Homo sapiens: one gene and its partners. The protein of the gene in region 1 interacts with the protein of each later gene in a pairwise test. Each region holds a gene or a part of one and is shown in the gene's direction. Other genes may lie near its edges. The genes, in order: PRR20B, TBX3 and SMAP1.

Region 1 (4,119 bases):
GCTACTCCGGAGGCCGAGACAGGAGAATCACTTGAACTGATTCTCCTATCTCAGCCCCCCCCCCCCCCCCGCCCCACCCCAAGTAGCCGCAGCGAGCCGAGATGGCACCGCTGCACTCCAGCCTGGGCTACAGAGCGAGAACCCGTCTCTGTAAAAGACACAAGGATGCAAACCAACCAAATAACCCACTGTGGGATCCCCTCCAGCGTCCTGCTGTGTTTCCCGCTGTCTTCCTCCACCCGTGAGTGCACCCACAGCAATAAAAGCCAGCGGTGTGGGTCTCACACGCATCTCCAGCCCCGTCGCCATCGCGCTGAGCTCGACTCTTTTTACAAAAGGCCACTTGACATCCTCACTTGGCAGTTCAAAAGCCCCTTCAACCAGATGTGCGCAAGCCAAGCTCCGCAACTTCCCGTTCAGAGCAGGTTCTCGGTCCACCTCTGCCTGAATGAACCGGCGGGCTACCAAGGCCGCAGTCTCTTCCTCAAGGGCTGTCCACACTGGGTCTCGCTTTCTCTTGGAAATTTCTCTCCCACCAGGGAACTTTCTCCTCCTCTACCTCCCTGAGTCTCAGTCTAACAGCACCCTGCGCCCAACCCCGAGGGCTGCAATAGCCTTCTTGCCTCTCCTGACTTATTCTGCGGACCCTGGGTTGGCGCTCCTTCACAGCCAGGCTGGTCGTTTCTGAAATGTTAACCCGCTGCCGGACACCGTTCCACGGTTTTCCGCTGCCTTGGAACAAGACCAGCTCCTGCGCGGACCCTGCCTCCACCTCGCACCACCTCCGGGCCTGGACTTGGCCTCCCGTCCATTCCCAGAATGTGCCGGGCTCCCTTCCAGTCCGGGCCTCAGCACACTCTCTTCACTCCCCTTCCTCCCTCCCTGCCTCTCCCAACCCGGTTCAGGATGACTAATTTCAAACGTTATGTTCCAGATTTCAGCCCAGATATCCCCGCTTTGGATGCTTTCCTTGACCATGCTCAGATCTAAGCTAATCGCATCTTCCTGTCAGCCGCTTTCAGGGCACCACACCTCATTGTGCTGACACTCAGAGGTCATTATGCAATTTTTTTTCCTCGATGATTAGATTAATCAATCAACCACGGACGTCTAGAAATGGCGGCATCTCAGAAGGGCCCCCATTTGACTGGCAGGGGACTGGCCCAATGCGCCTCGCAAGCCCAGCCAGGCCCGCCCCAGCCGGCCCCCCTCTGACGACGCCTGTCCCTTACGCGACTGCCTTGCTGCCATATAAGAGGGACGGCGCTCGGCCTCCAGCAGTCGGCTTTCTGCTGGGCTCGGAGCCAGAACCTGCTGCGTGCTCCCTCCAGACTCCCTGGCTGCGGGTGGACTACCTCAGAGCTACAGCGGTGAACCTGTGGACACCTCCGACTCCTCGGGCCTCTCTTCGTCGAAGAGTCTCCTAATTTTCAGATCTCCGGAGCCAGCTGTGGGAAGATCAGGTGTGTGTCTGGGGGTCCCGGAGGCGTGGACGGATCTCGGGTGGGTGCAGTTGGGGACAGAATCCTCATTCCCCTAGAAAGGCCACGGCCATCCCCCTGCCTTGTCACCTCTGTCTTCCTAAATCCGTTCTTGCTCTCTTGTTTTTCTCCCCAGCCCCTCCCGCCGATTGCTCATGGAGGAACCAAGGCCTTCGAAGCGACTTCGCTCCATGGCCCCTAATCAAGGTACATCAAACGCCTGCCACTCCTCTCTTTTTAATTTCGTCTGTTCCCCAATTCTTCCCCAATGGTTGACACTCAAACTCAATCAAGCATTCTCTGTTTCACCTTCTCCTAGCCTGCCTCAACCTGGGCTGCTTGTTGGAAGTCAGCTCCCGGGTTCCACATCATCTGGGAAATTCCTTTCCCTCTTCCGAACCGTAATCCCATTTCCCAAATCTGAGATTTGCTGTTGTTGTCGCTGTTTCCTTCTGTTTAGTTTTGTATTACTGTTTCTCCGTAGCAGAGCGAGTCCTCACGCTACGTCTTGATCTATGATAAACCGGTACTTCCACCTTGTTCTTTCCCGGAGGAGTTGGAATTTTCCGGCTGTTGCCACGTTGTTCTCCAAAACATTTCCCTTCATACGCTGAGTGTCCTAAATCTTTTAATCTTGTCTAGTTTGACAGATGCATAACAATAAAGCATCCACTGAAAGGAAATTCTTTAACATCTTGCTTGTCTGAAACATCTTCATTCTCCCCTCCCAGATTCTTCAGCGAAACTTCGGTTGGACAGGAAATTTTAGGTGGGAAATTCATTTCCCTTGAAATTTCGAAGACATTTTCTGTTATGTTCTAGACTGAACTGCTGCTTTTGAGATGTCTGACTTTTGAGACATGTGGAATCCTAGCCCTTTCCATGTGACTTTTCCTTTCTCTGTCTCCCGCTCTCTAGAATCTGTTAGAATCTTCTCTTTTTCCTCAGCACTCTGAAATTTTCTGGTGAAATGTCTCAGCCACAGCATACCTCTAATTCTCTTATATTTCATCCTTCTTTCCATCATTTTAGGTTTTTGCTTTGTTCTGTGGGAGACCTTCTCAACTTCATTCTCCAACTTCCGTGGAGAGTTTTGTTTCTTCTCTCACAATTTTAACTTCAGAAATCCCTCTTTTCTCTGAGTATTTATTTGTAAAAGTATCCTATAACTGCTTGACGGGTGAAGTTCCTTCTGTCTCTCTCTGCTCACGCTCCGCTTCTCTTTTAGCCTCAGGTGGGCCTCCTCCAGAGCCAGGCTGCTGTGTTGCGGACCCTGAAGGCTCCGTGGAAGCAGATGGGCCCGCACAGCCAGCCCAACCCGCAAAACCCATCGCTTACGTGAAACCCTTCAGACGGCAGCCCCCAGCTCGCCCAGAGTCACCCCCTCCTGCAGAGAGAGGCCGGCGCCGGGGAGGAAGCCGGCGGCCAGGGCGAGGCCGTGGCAGAAGGGCTGGGCCCCGCGGGGACGCTGGCCAGAGACAGGGGGCAGAAGGCTTGATGGCACCGGACGTGCACATCCAACTGGACCACCATGGAGAGCCAGGCCACCAGGGGGAACCGGAAATCACGGAGACCGCAGCCTTCTCCCTTTCTGAAACAGGTCCTCCGCCTGGAACTGTGCAGGAAGGCCCTGGCCCCGACGTGGCGCAACCTGAGCTGGGGTTTCAGGAGCCGCCCGCTGCTCCTGGGCCTCAGGCTGTTGACTGGCAACCCGTCTTGACCCTCTATCCCTGCATCGGGTTTAGGGCTCTGGGTGACTCAGCGGTTTTACAAGTCATTCAAACCCCCCAGGGCACCTACGTGCAAGGGGTCCCAGTGTTCCTCACCGACATTGCGTATTGACCACTATCTGCCACCCACGTTGTTCCCAGCCTCCCTTCCTTCCACCTGGACGTTCCCCCCAGCCCCACTTCTGCTCCACTCCTCCCCCGACTGGACCTGAAGCCTGAGCTTCCCCTGAACTTGGAGTACGCAACTTACAACATGCAAGCTGCCAAACACCCTTTCTGTACAAGGCGATTGGAATGGAACTGTCATGTACAGTGAAAGTACACGTCACGTTTTTCAGCCAAGAAGAAGCCAACCCAGACAACCTGGAAGAAGTGGGATGCAACAAGGATCACTAAGCATGGAAATTAGGAAACTGTATTCTTAAGTCCAGAGAAGTACGATTCTGGAAAAAGGATTGATGACCTAGAATTAAAATTCCAGAAGACACTCATATAGACATGTGGGACATGCGAAAACTCAGAAGGAGCTAGAAGTTACTAAAGTGCTTCTCTAGTGCCTGGAGACGATAGACTGGCTGAATATAAGAGCAATAAAAATCTAGACTGACACATTTTTAAGTCTCAACGTGGGTACCCTTTGGGAACCACTAAATGAATTGGAATAGAAGGTAAAATTTCAAACAGATTGAGGAAAAAGGGGATCAAAGGACATGTGACGAATCAGACAAAAGGTGTTGGGGTGGGGGGGGGGGCGGTTAACGGAAGCAAGGAGAGTGCATGACTCACTGGAACCGCTAAACCAGGAATCAGTAATTTGACGGCAGTGTCCTTGGCTTCCTCCTGGCTTTAATGGGAATATTTTGAATGTTTCACCATTAACCAAGATGTTGGCTGTAGGTGTCTCTTAG
Region 2 (3,651 bases), on another chromosome or scaffold:
GAAACATGTAAGCTTATCAGTCACAATATAAAGTCTTAGACTTGGTTTCAATATTATGTGATACATAGGAAATCAAACCCAAGATTACGGGTGGTTTATCTTTCTTTTTCTTTTCTATTCTTTCGTTTTATAGGCGAATGTTTCCTCCATTTAAAGTGAGATGTTCTGGGCTGGATAAAAAAGCCAAATACATTTTATTGATGGACATTATAGCTGCTGATGACTGTCGTTATAAATTTCACAATTCTCGGTGGATGGTGGCTGGTAAGGCCGACCCCGAAATGCCAAAGAGGATGTACATTCACCCGGACAGCCCCGCTACTGGGGAACAGTGGATGTCCAAAGTCGTCACTTTCCACAAACTGAAACTCACCAACAACATTTCAGACAAACATGGATTTGTAAGTTTCATTGCTCTCTTCAGTAAAATTTTCTCCTCCTTCACTCAGTCAAAGGCAGTGCTTCCCATTTCATGAGTTTCAGCCCAGACTTCTCCTTTGCTTCTCCCTAAGCATAGCAAACTTGTCCTCGTCTGGAAAAAGGATTCGGGGTGTTTCTCTCCAAATAATGGAAGGCCTGGCGTTCTAAAAGAAATGGGGCAAGAAAACTTACCGGCTTGTGTTCTATAGCAATTCCAGCTCTTTGGTAGATTCCTGACCTGAGAGTGAAGTTAAAAACCATTTTTTAAGAGCTAAAATCAATTTCAAGGCTATGTATTCCTAAAGGATTTGTTTTGTTTTAAAATATCATACTTCTGTTTTGAAACCAGTGATATTATTTTCTCAGGAGAGTTTACGTTTCGGAGCCTTGACTCTGTTGGTTAAATGGTGTGAATACATTTTTAAAAACTCGTTCTTTTACTAAAAAAAGAATTGGGCTTAGGTGGGAGTCCGGCTTACCCTAAATGAGGCTTAGATCTTCAGAAAAAAATGGTTTGTGTGTTGGGAGTGTATATATGGATTCAGTGACAGTGCTTAGAAACTTAGAAAACTTTCATTGCTTGTAGATATCAGGCAAAGGACCTTTTGCGCCTTTTCCTACCCCTCCCCAACATTTCAATAAAATAAACAGCGTGATAAGCAAGGAGTAAGCAGAAAGATTAGGCCCAGGAAGACGCGAATGGCGCGGAAATATCTTCAGCGGGCAGGAATTGCATTTGAAGCCCTTGATTTGATTAAGGCATAAATATTCCTCTCTAGAGTTCAGCCTTTCAGGGCTTTAAGTGGATTGGGCTCGTCAATTAGTGGGCGCTTAAAGTACTGAATCATTTTGTAAATTAAAATGCATGTTTTTCTCTATCTTTTAAGACTTTGGCCTTCCCAAGTGATCACGCTACGTGGCAGGGGAATTATAGTTTTGGTACTCAGGTAGGCTAGGGTTCAAGGTATGAATGATCCTTAGATGGTGAGGGTGGGGGGGGCCCTTTGGCAACTGAGGAGCAATTTGGATTCTCCAGAAGATAACATCTGTGGAGCGAAACGTACCCAGGGGGTACTCCAAGGAGGTGGGCTCGGTACAAGCGTGGTACCCTGCGGTGGGGAAGATTTCAGCCTGGCAGGGGTCCTAAGATCCCGTTTGTTCTGCTAAATCCTTGTTTTATGTATGTCTCCTCTTCCCTGCCCCTGCAGACTATATTGAACTCCATGCACAAATACCAGCCCCGGTTCCACATTGTAAGAGCCAATGACATCTTGAAACTCCCTTATAGTACATTTCGGACATACTTGTTCCCCGAAACTGAATTCATCGCTGTGACTGCATACCAGAATGATAAGGTAAACTCAAGGGGCTTTCCTTTTTAATGGTGATATTTTGCCTTCCCCTTAAAAGCTGCTTTAAGTCAGGATGAGAAAGTTACAAGAGAGTGGAGACGAGAGTCTTGAGTTGTCTTTTGTGATTTGTGGAGCATTTGGGGGGAAAGGACAATGACACCTCGAGGAGACAGAAAAACACCTTGACTAGGTAGGAACAATGCTGAGCAAAAAAACGCCATACTAATTTTGCCACAGAGAAACTCCTAGAACTGCTGTCATTGATGCCACCCACTCCTCCCCCCCTCTTGGGCTTTGTCCTGTCTGTTTTAAGGTTCATCTTCTTCCCCTTGGGGAAGAAGGATCAAGAAGTCACATTCAAAAGGAACCAGCTAAAAATTTAAGGCAAAAGCCATTTGGGATCCTGGGAGGAGAATCCTAGTAGAGACCAGCTTTTCTCCCCTAGCCAGAAATCCTGAGTAGCTGGTCTGGTTTTTATTACCTTTTATGCTGCTGTGTTATGATGTGTGTGTGTGTGTGCATGTGTGTGCATGCATGCGTGTGGTTGGAAAAACCTACCCTGATCACAGGGTCATATTAATCGAGTTGTCTGAGGCTTTTGAGTTGGGGTGGCCAAAGTCACCACTTCATTTGAATTCCCCCCCTCCCCCAGGCCTGAATCTGGAGGTTAGAAGGATCCCCAAAAGGGAAAGCACCTGATATCTAGAGCTATGGTGGCCTGAAGGTCATGGGCACAGAAAAAGTGACCCTTACTGCTGATTCACCAGTTCCCAGATTGGCTGTTAGCAGTTATGGGGTGGGAGGAGGGACTGAAGACCCCTGCTCTGCAATCCTGGACTTCAAAGAGAGTCCATTTTACCTGACAACACACTTCATTTTGAACTCACTGTCATTGTCACTGTCCTTGGGTCCTCTGTGGACTTCATGATGGGGATGTTCCAGCTAAATTTCTTTAGTGTGAATACCAAAACATGATCTTCTCTCCCTGTGAAACCTGAAGTCTTCAATAGAGCAATTTATTCCAAGAACATGAATCCAACCAAGGGTCCCCCTTTCCACCTCTGAGTAACTCTGTGTATATAACTTCTTCTTCCCACCAAGGGGAAGGGATTTGAAAGATTACACACTATAGCATTTTTCTCAAAGTGCAAAATGCATGTGCCCTCTAGACCCAGAATCCTGTGAAATGAAGTTGTTAATGTAATAATAAAATGTAGCATTTTTGATCAGACAAAAAGGCCATGGGCCTTCTCCACCTAATGGCCATGGCAGAGCATATAAATGAAAACAGATGTTTCCAGTGGTCATTCAGTACTGTAACTGTCAATATTGTAATTTCCTCAAACCACCCCCCAGGCAAAGAAAAAAAAAATTAAACTCACTCCCGCACTCACTCCCGCACAAGGGTAGTGAAACCCCATAAATCATTTATTGGATTCATGGAAAAGGAGTGTGTGTGTGTGTGTGTGTGTGTGTGTGTGTGTGTGAAGGGAGTATGCTATAATTTATGATTAATTGCACTGTATAAAAATCAAAATGAAAGCATAATTTTAAGATCTACAGGTTTTCCCTCTTGATGACTTTGACAACACTTCCATGTCTAAACCCAAACTGTTGGCTGCCCAAAGAAAAGAATTTCTTTGAATAATTTCATCCCCAAATCCCTGGTTTGGCCTCATATAGGAGATACAAGCCCTGCCACAGTTTCCTTATTATCTCCTTTCCCTGGCATATCTATATGACTTCTGTTGGCAGTCACATCTCTAGACTTGTTGAGTTGGGAAAAACACCCTCAAAACATTCTAGAAAATGAGAACAATGTCTCTGTCTTGCTTGTGTCTCTTCCAATAGATAACCCAGTTAAAAATAGACAACAACC
Region 3 (3,651 bases), on another chromosome or scaffold:
TGCATATCTGTTTAACCTTTCTTAGTTTGAGACTTACTTGCTAAAAATAATTAAACCCTCCAGCTATTGCTCTGTAACTATTTACCTTAATGTGTAAGCTTCAAAACAGATAGATAACGTTGTAAATTGTTGTGTTAGAAATGATGAGACAGAGTGGAAAGTAACTGGGGGAGGCAGCTCTATCTAGAGTTGTCACAGATGTCCCAGATGTATGTTTGCCAGTTTATAGATGTAATTTCTCAAATTTAAAAGCAGGATATTTGAGGATAAGTTGCATGTGCATAATCTTCCTCCTGTGTAATTAAGGAATTTGGGGGGGCATTATTTTTAATTTTACTATATTGTACTTACTAGCTTTAATGTTGTTGTGTAGAGCAGTGTCACCTTTAGATAAACAGCATGTACTTAAAACAGAAGGCTATGTTTAAAAAAAGCTTTATTTTTAATTTTTAATTTTTTGATACAGAGTCTCTCTCTGTCACCCAGGCTGGAGTACAGTGGCGGGATCTCGACTCACTGCAATCTCTGCCTCTGAGGTTCAAGTGATTCTCTTGCCTCAGCCTCCTGAGGAGCTGGTATTACAGGCACCTGCCACCATGCCTGGCTAATTTTTGTATTTTTAGTAGAGACCGGATTTCACCAGGTTGGCCAGGCTGTTCTCAAACTCCTGACCTCAAGTGATCCGCCTGCCTTGGCCTCCCAAAGTGCTGGGATTACAGGCATGAGCCACTGTGTCCAGCTACTTGATTTTTATTGATATCTCTTACTATATACATACATTTTTCATAATCAACTAATTTATAGAAGTCTGTTAGTAATATGATTCTGAATATTTGGCATATTTTCCAGATATTGCTTTTATTTTTCCATTTTTACTTTATTAATTTTACAAGCAATATGTGAAAAAATCTGAAGCAATTTTTAAAATTATTATGAAAGAATATATTCAAAGGTATGAAGACTTGTACAGCTAAGACTTGTATTCTTGTATTCATATGTGAGTTTTTTGGCAGTGTTTTTCAGAACTTTTTGACCATGAACTGAAGAACTAACATTTTGTAGCACACCTCAGTTCATATATGCGTATTATATGTTACTGAAACAAAAGTTTATATTCTTGCCATACAGCTTAGCAATTGAGTGCTACTATTGCTCTCCAAGCCCACAGTGAACTTTTCCCTGATCACATCCTCTTTCCTTACCACCAGTTACCTGCCTCAGTTTCACGAAATTTGTAGATACATTTAATTAATATGCAGTATGCTATTATTTTACATATTTTTCAATTTATGTAAATGGTTTCACACTGTATATATTCATCTGTGACCTTTTTTAATGTCAGTGTTATATTTGAGATTTAGCCATGTTGATGCAACGCTTTTTGAAGCAGTCCTTGTTTCCCCTTCTTGCCAACAATTAGTAGTTAAAAATTTTTTTTTCCAGAATGTTGGGTGCAAAATGGAAGTAACTGTAGAGTTAAAGAGCACTTTCACTAATTACCAGTGAGACTGTGCATATTTTCATGCTTATTGGCCATAAATTTCTTCTGTGAATTATTCATTCATATCTTTTTGCTTATTTCGCATTGGGCTGGTTGTCTTTTTCTTATTAATTTCTACATTTAATTTTTGAAATGTCTTTGATTTTTTATTTGTTGTTAATCTTGTGCATATCTTATGCATTTAATAAAGAAATTATTTTTACAGTAGGGTATTATTACTATTCCTGATTCAAATATGCTAAGTGAAGAAGCTGTTTATATAAATTAGTTTTAAAATCTTAGAGTGGAGGGGAAGTTTCTAGGAAAGCAAAATGAGTAAAATCAATAAGGTTCTTAAAGATTGCCAAGACACATGTCTTCTTAGCAGACTGCCGCCAGTACCATTTGAAAATTTGAGCATGTGACTTCTGTAAGCTTCCATTATAATTATATAAAACCGAGAATGCTTCTAATATGCTGTTATGTTTATTTTTGTTTTTAACATTTGCTTTTTTTTGTGGTTTCTTCTTCTAAATTAGGTCCTCGATGGGCTTCCTGGAATATTGGTGTGTTTATTTGCATCAGATGTGCTGGAATTCATAGAAATCTTGGGGTTCATATATCCAGGGTCAAATCAGTCAACCTAGACCAATGGACAGCAGAACAGATACAGGTAAACATGACGTTACCAAGAAATTATTTAAAATATTTAAAATGATTTAAAAATATTTAACCCTTCTTGCATCTAAGGATTAACATTGAAAAGTAGTTTTGTATGTTGAAATGGCATATGCCACGTATAAAATTGGAATATTTGAATTTTCAGTTCACAGATGTTTATTTCATTTTGTGTCTATAGTAAAGTCAGTTTTTAATCTATACTTTCTAAAATGTTGATTTTAAAGTGTTTTTAAAGTATCATTTCTCTTGTTGATAAAATTTGCCAGTATAATTCCATAGTTTGTTTTATTTTTTTTTCAGTGGAGGGAGCCTGGGTAAAGATAAAATAAAAAACCACCTGTAGCCTAAAAATGGACTTGAGTAATTTCCTTTCTGTTCTGAGGTGTTCTTAGTTTTCAGACAAGGCCCAGAAGTTGTAAGACAACCCAGTGAACAAATGTTCTTATGACCAACCTAAACTTACTTATGAGTGGTTTAACTCTGCTAGAGGTAGATTTGTAGTTTTAAAAGTTTGCCATTTTCCCAATGTGACAGTCTTAAATTCTCAAAATCTTACTTTTTATCTTTAAGGTTGGCCACTATTGTAAAAATGAGTACTTCTACTGGTCTTATTATGTAATTCACAGTGAAGTTACACCACTTATTTATGCCCTTTTGAAATTACTTTTAAGTCACTATGAAGTGCTAAATACATAAATATATGTGGTTGAGACTCAGTGATACATCTCAGAATCTTAACCCAATAGTTTACATGAATGGGGTGAAGTAAAGGTAGAAAAACAGAATGGAGATCTTCAGGCTATAAAGTCAAGCATAATTTATTTGGTTCCATCTTAAATTAGTTTTTGAGCTTTTCGCTGGCTAGAGCATAAAGGGAAATGCAATCTTTTATGTACTTTCAAGATCCTTGAGGAGAAAACATACTAGTTATATCAAAGAAGCAGAGCTTTTTAAACACTTCCTGTAAGGCAGTGTTCTTAGTATCTCTGTAGAATATGGTAACAGATGTCATGATGTTGTAAGTCTTTTTTTGTTTGTTTGAGACAGGGTCTTGCTATGTTGCCCAGGCTGGTCTCAAACTCTTGGACTCAAGCGATTCTCCCATGTCAGCCTTCCAAGTAGCTGTGACTATAGGCATGCACCACCATGCCCAGCTGATGTTGTAACTCTTTTTCAAGAAACGTGTGAGGTGTAGCTTGACAGTATAACTTGGTGTTTGTAATGGGTTATGGAGGTACAAAGCATTCACGACCGAAGTATCCTGCTTTTTTAATGGCTTATTTCAAACTAAGGATAAAACACGAGATCCTTCAACAGTTCAGTTATTCAGAAATATTTTTCTCAATTAGGTTGTTGAGAGGAAATGAATAGCAAATTATTTGAGATGGGCAGCTGTATAGCTTAGAGTAGAATTTTGTAATCAGAGGGCTGCAGTTCACTGGTTTTCTTTGGCATAGGTTACAAGTACATGGCAATATATTGGATTTTTT

What was found.
Region 2: the proteins of PRR20B (region 1) and TBX3 interact in a two-hybrid assay, tested with the Homo sapiens proteins (one large-scale study listed by BioGRID).
Region 3: the proteins of PRR20B (region 1) and SMAP1 interact in a two-hybrid assay, tested with the Homo sapiens proteins (one large-scale study listed by BioGRID).

Annotation. Positions count from the first base shown.
Region 1 is NC_000013.11:57,146,239-57,150,357, forward strand, and holds the start of PRR20B (proline-rich protein 20B), read left to right. Parts: upstream 1-1,249; 5' UTR 1,250-1,463; intron 1,464-1,617; 5' UTR 1,618-1,636; coding exon 1,637-1,688; intron 1,689-2,709; coding exon 2,710-3,323; 3' UTR 3,324-4,119.
Region 2 is NC_000012.12:114,677,629-114,681,279, reverse strand, and holds part of TBX3 (T-box transcription factor TBX3), read left to right. Parts: intron 1-133; coding exon 134-401; intron 402-1,307; coding exon of another isoform or gene 1,308-1,367; intron 1,368-1,628; coding exon 1,629-1,775; intron 1,776-3,623; coding exon 3,624-3,651.
Region 3 is NC_000006.12:70,730,359-70,734,009, forward strand, and holds part of SMAP1 (stromal membrane-associated protein 1), read left to right. Parts: intron 1-2,019; coding exon 2,020-2,153; intron 2,154-3,651. UniProt on the Homo sapiens protein: GTPase activating protein that acts on ARF6. Plays a role in clathrin-dependent endocytosis. May play a role in erythropoiesis.